2 linked regions of the Homo sapiens genome follow. The protein of the gene in region 1 interacts with the protein of each later gene in a pairwise test. Each region holds a gene or a part of one and is shown on either strand. Other genes may lie near its edges.

Region 1 (7,447 bases):
CATCCCTTTTCATACACAAAGCTCCAGAGTCTCCTCCCTTAGGACACCAGTGGGACTCTAGAAGGAACACTATCACCGTGTGACTCACGTCATCTGCACACATAATTAGGAATCCCCTGCACAATTAACATGCCAGGTGGATTTGCATTTTTTTAAAGGAGGCTTTTAATCCAAAAAAATATTTATAACCTAGAGAGTGGAATGGGGAAGGAGGATGCTTTTTAATCCTGGCTTTCACCCAGATCCAAGCATCCCAAACCCAAATAAGCACTCACTGCCACAATGATCCCCACTCCTAAGTAGAAATGGAATTTTAGCTGTGCCTTGCTAGCACTAAAATTAACACATTGTAAGATAAAATAATTTAATTTAAACTGGGCAAGGAAGAAAGGTCATGCTCTCTGCCTCTAATGAAAAGCACCTCTAGAATTCCACCCCAAGCGTTCAGAGAGCGACGTCAACCAAGGAGGCCCACAAGTAATGCAGCGGATACTGAGAGGACCTCTCTCATCTCATAAGCTAGAGAAACTGTTACCAAATGGCTTAAAATAGCGGTTTCCAAGTTTGTTTTCCTTCTTTCATATGTATTCTCACTAGAAAAACACCCAACCCCTGTGCCTTGTCCATATTTGGTGCTCAAAAAACGTTAATTCCCAGCCTCCACCTGTCACCCTACTTTCCCTGGAAAGGAATGTTGGGATTAGGAGAGTTAGCTTTGCAGGCTTCTTGCTCTTAAGCCAGGGCTCATAACACCTTCATTTGTGGCAATAGCCAAGTCCTTAATAAGAATCATAAGAGTTGCATCTATTGAGAGATTTTTTTTTCAGTCAGGCACTAGGCTACATGCTTTACATATTTTTATCTCATTTGATCTCTACGACAACCCTCTGAGGTAGGTATTTTCAGTTATTATTACTGTTATTAGAGATATTTTGTGAATTTTTTTTTTAATCTGAGCATTGAAGAAGTTAAGTAACTTGTCTGAGGTTCCCACAGCCCAGAAATGATAGAATGATAGAATGGGGATTCCATGCAAAGTGATCTGGCTCAAAAGTTGGGTTCTTATTCACCGTGCTGTATGTTTGTTATTATATGGGTTCAGATATTTTATGGTCCAGAAAAAAAGTGTCTGAATTATTATGATCTACTGACTCTCTAAACAACGTCCAGAAAAAGAACAGAAGCATACCCGTGCCATCTCATTTAGACATGCAAAGAAAGTAGCACATATTTCATGGAATTTGGGGACTGGCTTTTGAGGAATAGAGACTTGCTTATCATTCATCAACCAACTCGTTCTCCCAAGAGGAAGGCCACTTTAATTCCTGGATAATTGAAGGGCCTCCTTAAAATGAAGAAACCAGAGGTGGAGGTCTTACTGGTACCCCGAGCCACACGAACCTTTCTCTGCATAAATGATGTCCTAAGGGAAGACAGTAGAGGGCAAATGGAGGCCCACAGCCAGGCACAGGGATGCAGAAAGCAGCCCCAAGTGGGAAGAGGCCACGCTCGACAAGCTCCCTCTCACATGGAATTCTGCTGGTGCCGTGAGAGCCGAGGAAGCGCAGCCGCAGGGCAGAAGGAGACCAAGGACTATTGAATGGGGTCACTTCTCCCCAGTGCCTGCAAGGTCCTCGCTTTTGTGTCCACACCCTAACTGTCTAATCTGATTTCCTGCAATGTGTAAAACAAACTGTCTTCTCTTCTCCAGTGTCTCTTCAACTGGCCTTATCATCTCCAGGTCAGTCTCGCCTTTGTGCCTTTGCCCACAAGGTCCTCCCAGTCTGAAATCACCTGCCCCTTCTCCTTCTACCGACACTTCGCATTCTTCCAAAGCCCAGATCTTCCTGACAACTCCAGTTTGCCCCCAGGCCCCCTCCATGGAATTCACAGAACTCTTCAAGCCTGTGCTGCCCCACTCATCACTGAATTCTCATCTTGCATTGCTTCCTAAATTTTACTTCTTATCACAACTACCAGATTATAGGGTCCTTCAAAGTAGAGATTTTTAAAATATTTCTCTTATATCCTCCACGGCACCAGCTTAGAACCAATAAGGGGACACCAACTACTTGTTGCCTGCTTGAATACGTCAATGGCAACTTTCATTTAGTAAAGCACCTAAAACCGGTGATTTCCCAAACTTTGTTTAGTTACAACTCAGGCTACTGACTGGTACCTCGTAGCATATCTCCAAATCAAACCACCTCAGAAGAAAGATTAAATTTAATTAAAAAATACATGTTATACATCATAGAGCACTTTTGGGAAATGGTCATTAACATTGGCAATAGGTGAAAAACACAAGCTAGAAATTCCAGATTGAAATCTACATCATTTAGACTTCGGTTCTGTTTCTTTTCTGAACTAGACAACTTTAAAATTCATATTTGCACAACTTAGAGCATCTTTAGATTTACTTCATCAAACCTTGGGTAGTATTTAAACTACCCATACAGTTGAGCTCAGCCACAGTCACAAGCATATGCATTCTCTAGAATATCTGGAAAACCAAAAAGCCAACTATTGTAACTTTTCATGTTTCAAAAATCTTGTTAGGACTGTGGTGAGGGGCAGTGAATATCAAAGCAACACTCACCCCCCCGACCCCCGTCCCCCTGTAAATTGATTCTACACCTTACAGCAGGTAGCTCAGAGTCATTACGATGTTTGGCCTAGAGTAAAAGCTAAATAAAATTAGAAAAATTTCTTTTGACACCAAAGAAATACTTTTAAGGAAGCAAAATCCTTACCTGTTGCAGAATGCCGAAGAAATGTCTTGACAGTAAAATGACTGACTCCGGAAATCAAATTTGTTCAACAAAAGCAGGTGAAAACAAAAGCGGCCCAAGCCTTTTCACTGTGGTTGATTTCCTCATAGGATCAACCTCTCCCTCGTTCCCGAGAATATTAACTGATTCACACTGGAAGAACTGAAAATACAACAGTTGGGCTGGCAGGGAGTCCACCCCAAGATGGTTGGGTTAGTGTGTGTGGGGCAGCAGGAGCAATCCGAATGTGACAAAAGAGATTAGCAAGTTCCTGTGCCTAAGTCAATTTCCTGTAGCCGGCTTCTCCGCAGAGGGGGTTTCATTTGTGTGGGTTTAGGGGGGTGTGTGTGCACGTGCGTTTCTCTCCATTAGAATATGAAACTTCCCCAGATCAGAGGCAGAATAAGGCCTTTGCCGCACCGCTGGGTTTGCGTTTAATTTATCCCCCACCCTACTCCGAGACTATGTTTCTCTCCCCCTTAGCCCCATTTTCCTCCAGCAAAGCCCTACGTAAAACTGAAGAAAGGAAGACTGAAGAGTCCAAATGATTCCTCATGGAAGTAAAATTACCAAAAAAAAAAAAAAAAAAAGTCCATGCCACTGACCAATCTTGGTTAATTTGAGCTTAGGAAACAACACCTTAGAACTTTCCCCCCATCAGCTTGGGGAAAACAAGAGGTGGATTGTCTGCTTCGCTTTGCTGCATTAAAAACTATCAAATATTTTGCAAAGAACAGAGGCAGGCTTAGTGAGAGTTCGAGCAGCCCCCTGCCGTGCGTTCACCCCTGTATGGACGAGCACCTGGGCTGGGAGTTACCTGGCGATGAGTTGTTTTTTCAGACTCCTCAGAGTTTCATTATTTGCCTAAAAACACAAGTTTACTTGTTTTGTCCTAATGGGCAATCCAGGTGTAGAGACCATCTGCAACTACTTAGGTTATGGCTAAACGCCTAACCCAACAAATTGAACTTTTGTGATGTGGTCACAACCGCCTGTGCCCCAAATCCCTGAATAACTAACTGTTGATGCTACTGCTCACGGTGATAGCTTGGTCAAAATACCTGCCGACCGTAAGGATAAAGTCAACTCCATGCCTTTTATTTTATTTTATCAGTGCATCGGCCCCACACTCAAAGATTTGAGTTTAATTGAGCTGGGTTGGGACCGGACATCAATATTATTTTAAACCCCTCTGATTATTCTAAAGTACTGCTGCCACTCTAATGGATGAGAAGGAGGAAAGAACATTCCACGTAGAGGCAAATAGTATGTGCAAAGGCCCTGAGGTGGGAAAGAGGTTGGCATGTTCAAAGAAGTGAAAGCAGATGACTGTGCTTGCAGCATAGTTGTAGAGGGAATCAATGGTACAAGGTGAGCATTCTTATCAATAGACACCCAATTACCAAGTTCACAAGACTTCCACATGAACCCATGTGTCAATTTGTTAATGCACAGTAAGAACTCAATCTGCCAGCTGAGATCCTCGAGCCTTCTGAAGAGCACATTATCTCCTAGAAAATCCTCTGTGGGAGGCCAGGTGCAGTGGCGGTGGCTCACACCTGTAATGCCAGCACTTTAGGAGGCTGAGCGGGGAGCATTGCTTGAACCTAGGAGTTCGGGACCAGCCTGGGCAACGTAGTGAGATCCCATCTCTACAAAAATTAGCTGGGCAACCACACCTGTAGTCCCAGCTACTCAGGAGTCCGAGGCAGGAGGATTGCTTGAACCCATGAGGTTGAGGTTGCAGTGAGCTGTGATCCACCACCACACTCCAGCCTGGGGACACAGCAAGACCCTGTCTCGAAAAAAGAGAGAGAGGGACAGACAGAAGGAGGGAAGGGAAGGAAAAGGAAGAGAAGGGGAGGGAAGGAAGGAAGGAAGGAAGGAAGGAAGGAAGGAAGGAAGGAAGGAAGGAAGGAAGGAAGGAAAAGAAAGAAAGGAAAGAAAGGGAAAATCCTCTGTGGAAAGCCAGATCACCATGGTGATGTTATCAGCTGAGCAGAACATAAGCTTGTGGATATTTTCTTTATCTACTTCTGGTTTTGTTCATCAAAGGATTTAGAGCATCTGGCAAAAATACTTACACCTTAGCAAAATGAAACAATTAAAAACAAGAAATTTGAAAATGAGGCCAAGAGAAGTGAAGACAAAAATGACACTAAAACTGGGGGTGAGGTTAATTACAGAGAATGTATGCCACGTGGTTCTATGCTCTTCAGCAACTGGTATGAAGCAGGAAATATCACCACACAGAAAGCTCATTGCCCGCGGGAGAAACATAAACACATAGCTCAGAATCATGAGGTCTTCCTGGCTCCCCAGTGCTGAGATTAAAGAGAAACTTTGCCCCCTGGATTCCCATAGAGAAGACAACACGGCTGAAGTGAAACACCATGTTTAGACTCCACGCAGCCAGCCACAAGTCCGTGAGGTGGTTCCTTACGCTGTTCCTCCATATATGCTGATTGCATCTCACCGAAGAGTTTACTAAAAGCAACTCCAGGGTGTGCGGCAGGGAGAGTGCAGCAGGAGATTAGTAAGAATGTGCCACCCCACAGCACCACTTTGATGTTCCAGTTTTATCCAGAGATGAAAAATGACTTCATGGGCCGGGCGCAGTGGCTCACGCCTATAATCCCCACACTTTGGGAGGCCGAGGCAGGCGAATTGTTTGAGCCCAGGAGTCCAAGACCAGCCTGAGCAACATAGCGACACCCAGTCTCTAAAATAATACTAATAATAACAATGACAATAGGCCGAGTGCTGTGGCTCACGCCTATAATCCCAAAACTTTGGGAGGCCGAGGAGGGCAGATCGCTTGAGGTCAGGAGTTCGAGACCAGCCTGGCCAACATGGTGAAACCCCGTCTCTTCTAAAAATACAAAAATTAGCCAGGCACGGTAGCTCATGCCTGTAATCCCAGCTACTCGAGAGGCTGAGGCAGGATAATTGCTTGAACCCAGTAGGCAGAGGTTGTAGTGAGGCAAGATCATACCACTGCACTCCAGCCTGGGCAACAGAGTGAGACGTCAGCCTAAAAAATAATAATAATAATAATAATAAAGAAAAATGACTTCAGATATGCTTCAGAAAATTCAGGATAAAAAGTTTCTCTCATCCAAGTTTCTAAAAGATTTAAAGAGGCAAAGAGTTCAAAATTGGTTGCCCCTCCAACAGGAGATCCAGTGTCCTTTAAGGGGGACAATGTCTCCCCTTCAGAAAGCAGAGGAGTCAGACAAGGACAGCTGCCTGTATGGACAGATCCCCTCCATCTCCTAAGTAGAAGGGGAGATGAGGCTCTGCCCTTTGGGAAACAAAGCAAGAAACGCCACCAGCATGATTTATAACGAGCTCCAGGCCTCAGGCCTTGTACCATTTTCTGCACGAAAGTGGAGACGTACTCCAGAGTCAGGATGGACTGGGTGTGTCCCACCCCATCCTGGAAAGGACTAGGAAGGGCATTGTCATACCTGGCTGCGAGACCCCTGTCCCTTTCACCCCCTGGCTGACCACCCTTCTGCTTCTGAAGAACTGGTTTTCTGTGCCTGGAATTGCCAGTTTTAGATGATCTGGTACAGTCCAGCGTTGGGCTTCCTCCTGCTCCTGACCTACACGCCTCTAATCTTCACACAGTTTAATCTCAGAGAGGATTTTCTTAGGGGGAGGGGACAGGGGGTTGCCATCTAATTTTCTTCCTTCCTTGAAAATGTCTTTTTGGTGTTTCTCTCTTTCTCTCTCCCCACTCCCCTCCTCCCCCACCCCGCCCCTCCTCTCCTCTCTCTCTCTCTCTCTCTCTCTCTCTCGCTCTCATTCTTTTAACAGACTTTTAACCGACAGGGGTAGTGGTGAGGGGAGGAAGCAAACGCTGAAAATACATGCAAACATTCACAGACATACACGCACCCAAGCCCCAGGGCGTGTCCCTTCTGACGCTGTGCAGTCTGTCCTTGGGATGGGGTTGGGAGAAATCCTGGGGACTTCAGAGTGGCAGGAGGAGGGAAACCATGGGTCCACAGTTCGTAACTGGGAATCAGAGCCCCCCTCTGAGCCATCTTCCAGGAAGCCATCTGTAGCCACCACCCACCTCCATTGCAAGCCCAGTGAGGTGCCCTCCCAAGGGCTCCATAGCACGTCGTGTTAACACGGCCAGAGCACTCACCAAATGGCCCTGCAGTGTTCACTTCAGAGGTCCCAGGGCTCAGGGTCCAGCCTTGCCCACTCAGAAATCCAAGGTACTGAACAACCACTTTCTGACCAATAAATAGATTGATTCTCCCATCTCACAGCCTCACAGCTGCCCTTTATGGTAAACACTTTAAACCCTATTTTAACAGCCAAGGAAACAGAGACTTCAGCTGGTTAAATGATTTGCATAAGACCCTATGGCCTAAGAAAACCAGAACCAAGATTCACCCCATTCATCTGTCCTGGCTGTCACTCCCGCTGCCTCCCCACAGAGAGAACTGAACCACCGTGGGCAACGAGGAGCAGCCAGAGCCCCAAGGCCCATTTTCTTGGCCCTAAACATGCCCCCTCCAGGATTCCCTGTGCAAACGGTCCCCTTCAGGTCAAGGTGAAAAAGCAAAGACTTACTTTCTCAAAACCACCTTCATCAGAAATGTTCTCTGATATGGCAAAAGAACAGCTTACTTTAATATTCTCCTGTGAACAAAGAC
Region 2 (3,988 bases), on another chromosome or scaffold:
AGCTTCCTCTCTTATATTAATTGATGGAATTTTACTGTATGTGCCTCTGTACAAGATGTAGCTTTGAGAGCTACAAAATGATAACACTGCTTTATTACACACTGGTTTCATTGTCATTGCAAAAACTTACCCTGGTTGTGGGGGAGAGTTCTAGATCTGTGCCATGATCCATACACTGGCTAATAGAGTACATAATTTTTCCATTTTCCATTTTTTGTTTTTACTTACTACTGAAGGATCTCAGATGTAAAATTATGTATTTGGTTTGAGATGGCCACTTATTGTCCTTAAAAATCCATACTGATATATGCAGTCATTTTGAATTGGACAGTGCCTTCTCTTTTTTTTTCTCCTCTTCTTCCATCTCCCTCACCCATGCCCCCACCCAATCTAAAGAGACAGTGCTGTACATTCTCATAGAGATAGAGAAGATCTAAAAAGTTGAGACTACTCAATCCAGTTAACAACAGCAGGAGCACTAGAGTTTGTTCATTTATTCTCTCTGTAAAACAAGCTGTGCTTTTTTTCTTCTGCCTTTAAAATGCCACCCGTGTATTCAAACCATGGCCACTTGATACTTATGTAGAATCCATCGTGGGCTGATGCAAGCCCTTTATTTAGGCTTAGTGTTGTGGGCACCAATGTCGAGCATCGTTGTGACTTGTGCTGTATGATTCTCACTGAAGAATTTCCTTTCAGCCAAGAAGCAGTGAGGTCTGGGAATATTCCAAAGTCATGTCTCTGAATATGTGTCCTTGACGTGCAAGCTTTGTAAAACCCCATCCCCGCTTAGGTGCGAGGCATCACCTTCTCACAAGTGTTTAGTTTCTTTTAACCACAAGTATCATTCTTGGGTGATAATATAGTTTCATTCTACTTAGGGATTGTTTAGAAAACAAAGAAAGAGCCAATTAAATTTTTTAGTTTTTGAAATTTTTATTTATATGTATACTTAGATGAGTATTTTAAGCTGTCGACCTTTAGTTTGCCATACGGGTAGGACTGTATTTCATGTTAACAACTGGTGGTAATGATAAGCCTTCTTCTAGCGTATTTTCTCTTCTTTCCTGTCACTTTCCTAAGTTTTTTTTTTTAAAGACTGGAATTTTTTTTGGCTTTATCTTGTCTTACCGTAGAGATTTGTTCAAAACTCTAAGCCCTACCACCTCCCCTTTAATAAGCTCTTTAAATAGTTGAATCATTAACAACCTGGTGGGAGGCAAGTCATTTAATTGAACCACTAGGAAGTGTATTTTCTTTTCTTTTTCTGCCAACTTTTTGGTGGCATTTGTAAAAGCTGATATAAAAGGCTCTGAGATGTTATTTTCAGTTATTCCATAGGCAAGCCTTTTTACAGAGCATATGTCTCCAGTTGGCAGCTTGAGATATTTCCGAGCATCCGGTTCTAGCTACCAGTGCCTCCCAATGCTTAGTGCACAGTACTGTAGACTGGCCATCACCCCTCTCCTTGGAAAATGCCACTGTGCTGTTTGAAAAAAAGCAGCCTTTTAGGGCTAGAGTATTTTATATAAACAGAAGAGCTAAGTTCCTGAAGACTAAGCTAGATAGCTGCAGCTATATGTAAATTGTATATTTTTATGAACTTTTGAAGCACACACTCCTGTTTCCCTCTGTGTAGCTTTGTGGGGATTTCATGTATATATGCTGTCTGAAAGAATCCAGAGGTTGGAGTGCCAATAGAAAATGAAAACAAATGCCTTGTACTACAGGCAGCCTCTGAAGGTGACCACATAACTGTCTTCACTGTGACCAATCGGAGTCCCTGCTTGCTTGTGAAGAAGGGGCTTTTGTACCTTGTTGGAGATGCCACCTCAGAAGTTCACACTGTGCAGGAAAAAGGTTTTATTCTCTCCTGGCATACATTAGAATGTCAGATGCTTGCATCCATGTGGACCACGATGGGCCTCTAAAAATTGGTGGGCAGGGGGTTTGCTTATGAGTTTTCTCTGGAAACCGATTTTACTCCTGGATGTATTGAATGCCCCTTGAGCTTTATGAGATACGAGTCCACATGGATAAAATGTTAGAGAGTGGAGTTCTACAGAGGATTCCAGGAAGAGGCCATGTCTGTGCAGTCCTAGTTCCAGACAGGTGAGAAGCTCCAGGAACTACTGGCTACCTTGACAAGCTGGGTAAATAGTTATCATTCTGGGTAACTGGTTGAAACTCTGACTTTTGGACAAGTAATTCCTGGGGTTCTGTCTTTGGTAGCATCACCAGGGATATTTGGGTGGGACAGACAGAAGACACACAGCTGCCTGTTCTCTCCTGCCCATCATGTTTGGCCCACTAGATGAAGCTGTACTCAGCAATTTAGGGAATGTAACCCTTCTCAGAACTGGCCATTTTCAGGGGAAGCTTGGGAGAGCAATAGTATGGTGAGCCCCTTAGAGATGAGCGCCTACTCCTTCTTGGCGAATGCTGCCTTCAGATGCTTACCAAGTGGTCACTGCATCTAGTAAGATTATATTTCCAGTACACTTCCTTAGGGCAGAAACACCATCCTATCAGGTTTGGTCAGTCCCTTCTTCATGAAGGGAGTCATGGGGAATTCCTGAAAATTTTCTTCCTTCTGCAGACAGTTGGATGAGTCCCTTAGAGAAGGCATCCAGAGACATAACTAAACTGAATATCATCCCATATTGATTTTAGGAATTGACTCTAAAACTCTGTGCAGAATCTTGTGTTGGGATTGTATCTTGACATTCCTGTTGTGTTATTTTTCTTAACTGGAGTGTGTGCTGCCTTTCAGGTACAATTTTTGTGTAATAAAAGCCAGTGCATTAAGTTTATATAGACTACTTTCTATGCAAGACTGAGATATGGAATAGATAGGAAGAGATATGTACTGCTGGGTACATGGACAGTAAGTGTGTTTTCAGATGGAGTACCAGCACCGAAAATGGGTTGAGGGAGGATGGGTTGTATGTATGTTTCTGCCCACTAATTTTGAGCAGCCATATTATGAATTAAATCGTCACAGCCAAGTAATAACCCAAGAATGGTATGAGTTTCATGTGTAATAGCTCAAATGGAATAAGCATGAATGCTGGAGTGGACCATTATCCTCAAATATTCTATGTCACTTCTCATTTAAAGACTCTTGTTATGAACTATTAGAAACTTTAGGCAAAATCAAAAGTATTTGCGGCAAAATAAAGGCCTATTCTACTCTTATTTAAAGTGAAACACTGTATACTTGTTTCTCTCCAAAGCGAAATTAAGTATTTATAATTTCAATTGCCTCGATAAGTTTCCAAGTCACTGAAATCTGCTGAAGGTTTTACTGTATTGTTGCACAACTTTAAGATAATTTTTGTCTCAATGTCAACTTTTTTCACTGAATAAAAATTTAACTGGGTCAAGAAAACACCTCTTTGAAAATCCACTGTCTCTGTGTGTCTCGAGCTGTTCTTTAGAGCGCAATAAAGATGGCTGACGCAGTCTCCAAACCCCATTTGATTGGTCTGTTTTAAACGGATGTTTATTTCATAGATGAGAGAACACCAAGGCCTGGAATAATTTTGTTATTAACAAGCTGGTCTCAGATGGTGGATCCTTGAAGAACACGATGTCTTTGTGTTGGTTGAGGAGGGGGAAGATGTGCTGGCTGTTTTGAAGTAAACAGAATTATTCCGTAGGGACAATGACTAAAGTGGCTCCCTTAAATTTGTAACTACATTTGCTAAGAGACAGTTTGCTAAGAAGGCAATTTTCAAATCTAAGAGACGGAAGCACAGCAGTATAGATGAGCTGTGTGTCTAAGAGCACTTCTATGGGTTTCCATAGACAGTCTTGTGAGGAGTGCTGCGTGTACCTATTATGGGCAGCTGAATGGCCATGGGCCTGTAAGTCAGGATTGGAGGCTGTGGAACTGGGTGGGGGAGGGAGGCAGGTTTTTAAGAATTTAACAGGTCTTCTGGTATGCTGCTTTTGTTTAGACACTGAGCCAGAGCCAAACCCTGAA

What was found.
Region 2: the proteins of RHOH (region 1) and SORL1 interact in binary tests that used the Homo sapiens proteins (3 or more experiments, as listed by UniProt).

Annotation. Positions count from the first base shown.
Region 1 is NC_000004.12:40,192,607-40,200,053, reverse strand, and holds the start of RHOH (rho-related GTP-binding protein RhoH precursor), read right to left. Parts: upstream 3,024-7,447; 5' UTR 2,754-3,023; intron 1-2,753.
Region 2 is NC_000011.10:121,630,286-121,634,273, forward strand, and holds the end of SORL1 (sortilin-related receptor preproprotein), read left to right. Parts: 3' UTR 1-3,478; downstream 3,479-3,988. UniProt on the Homo sapiens protein: Sorting receptor that directs several proteins to their correct location within the cell. Along with AP-1 complex, involved Golgi apparatus - endosome sorting.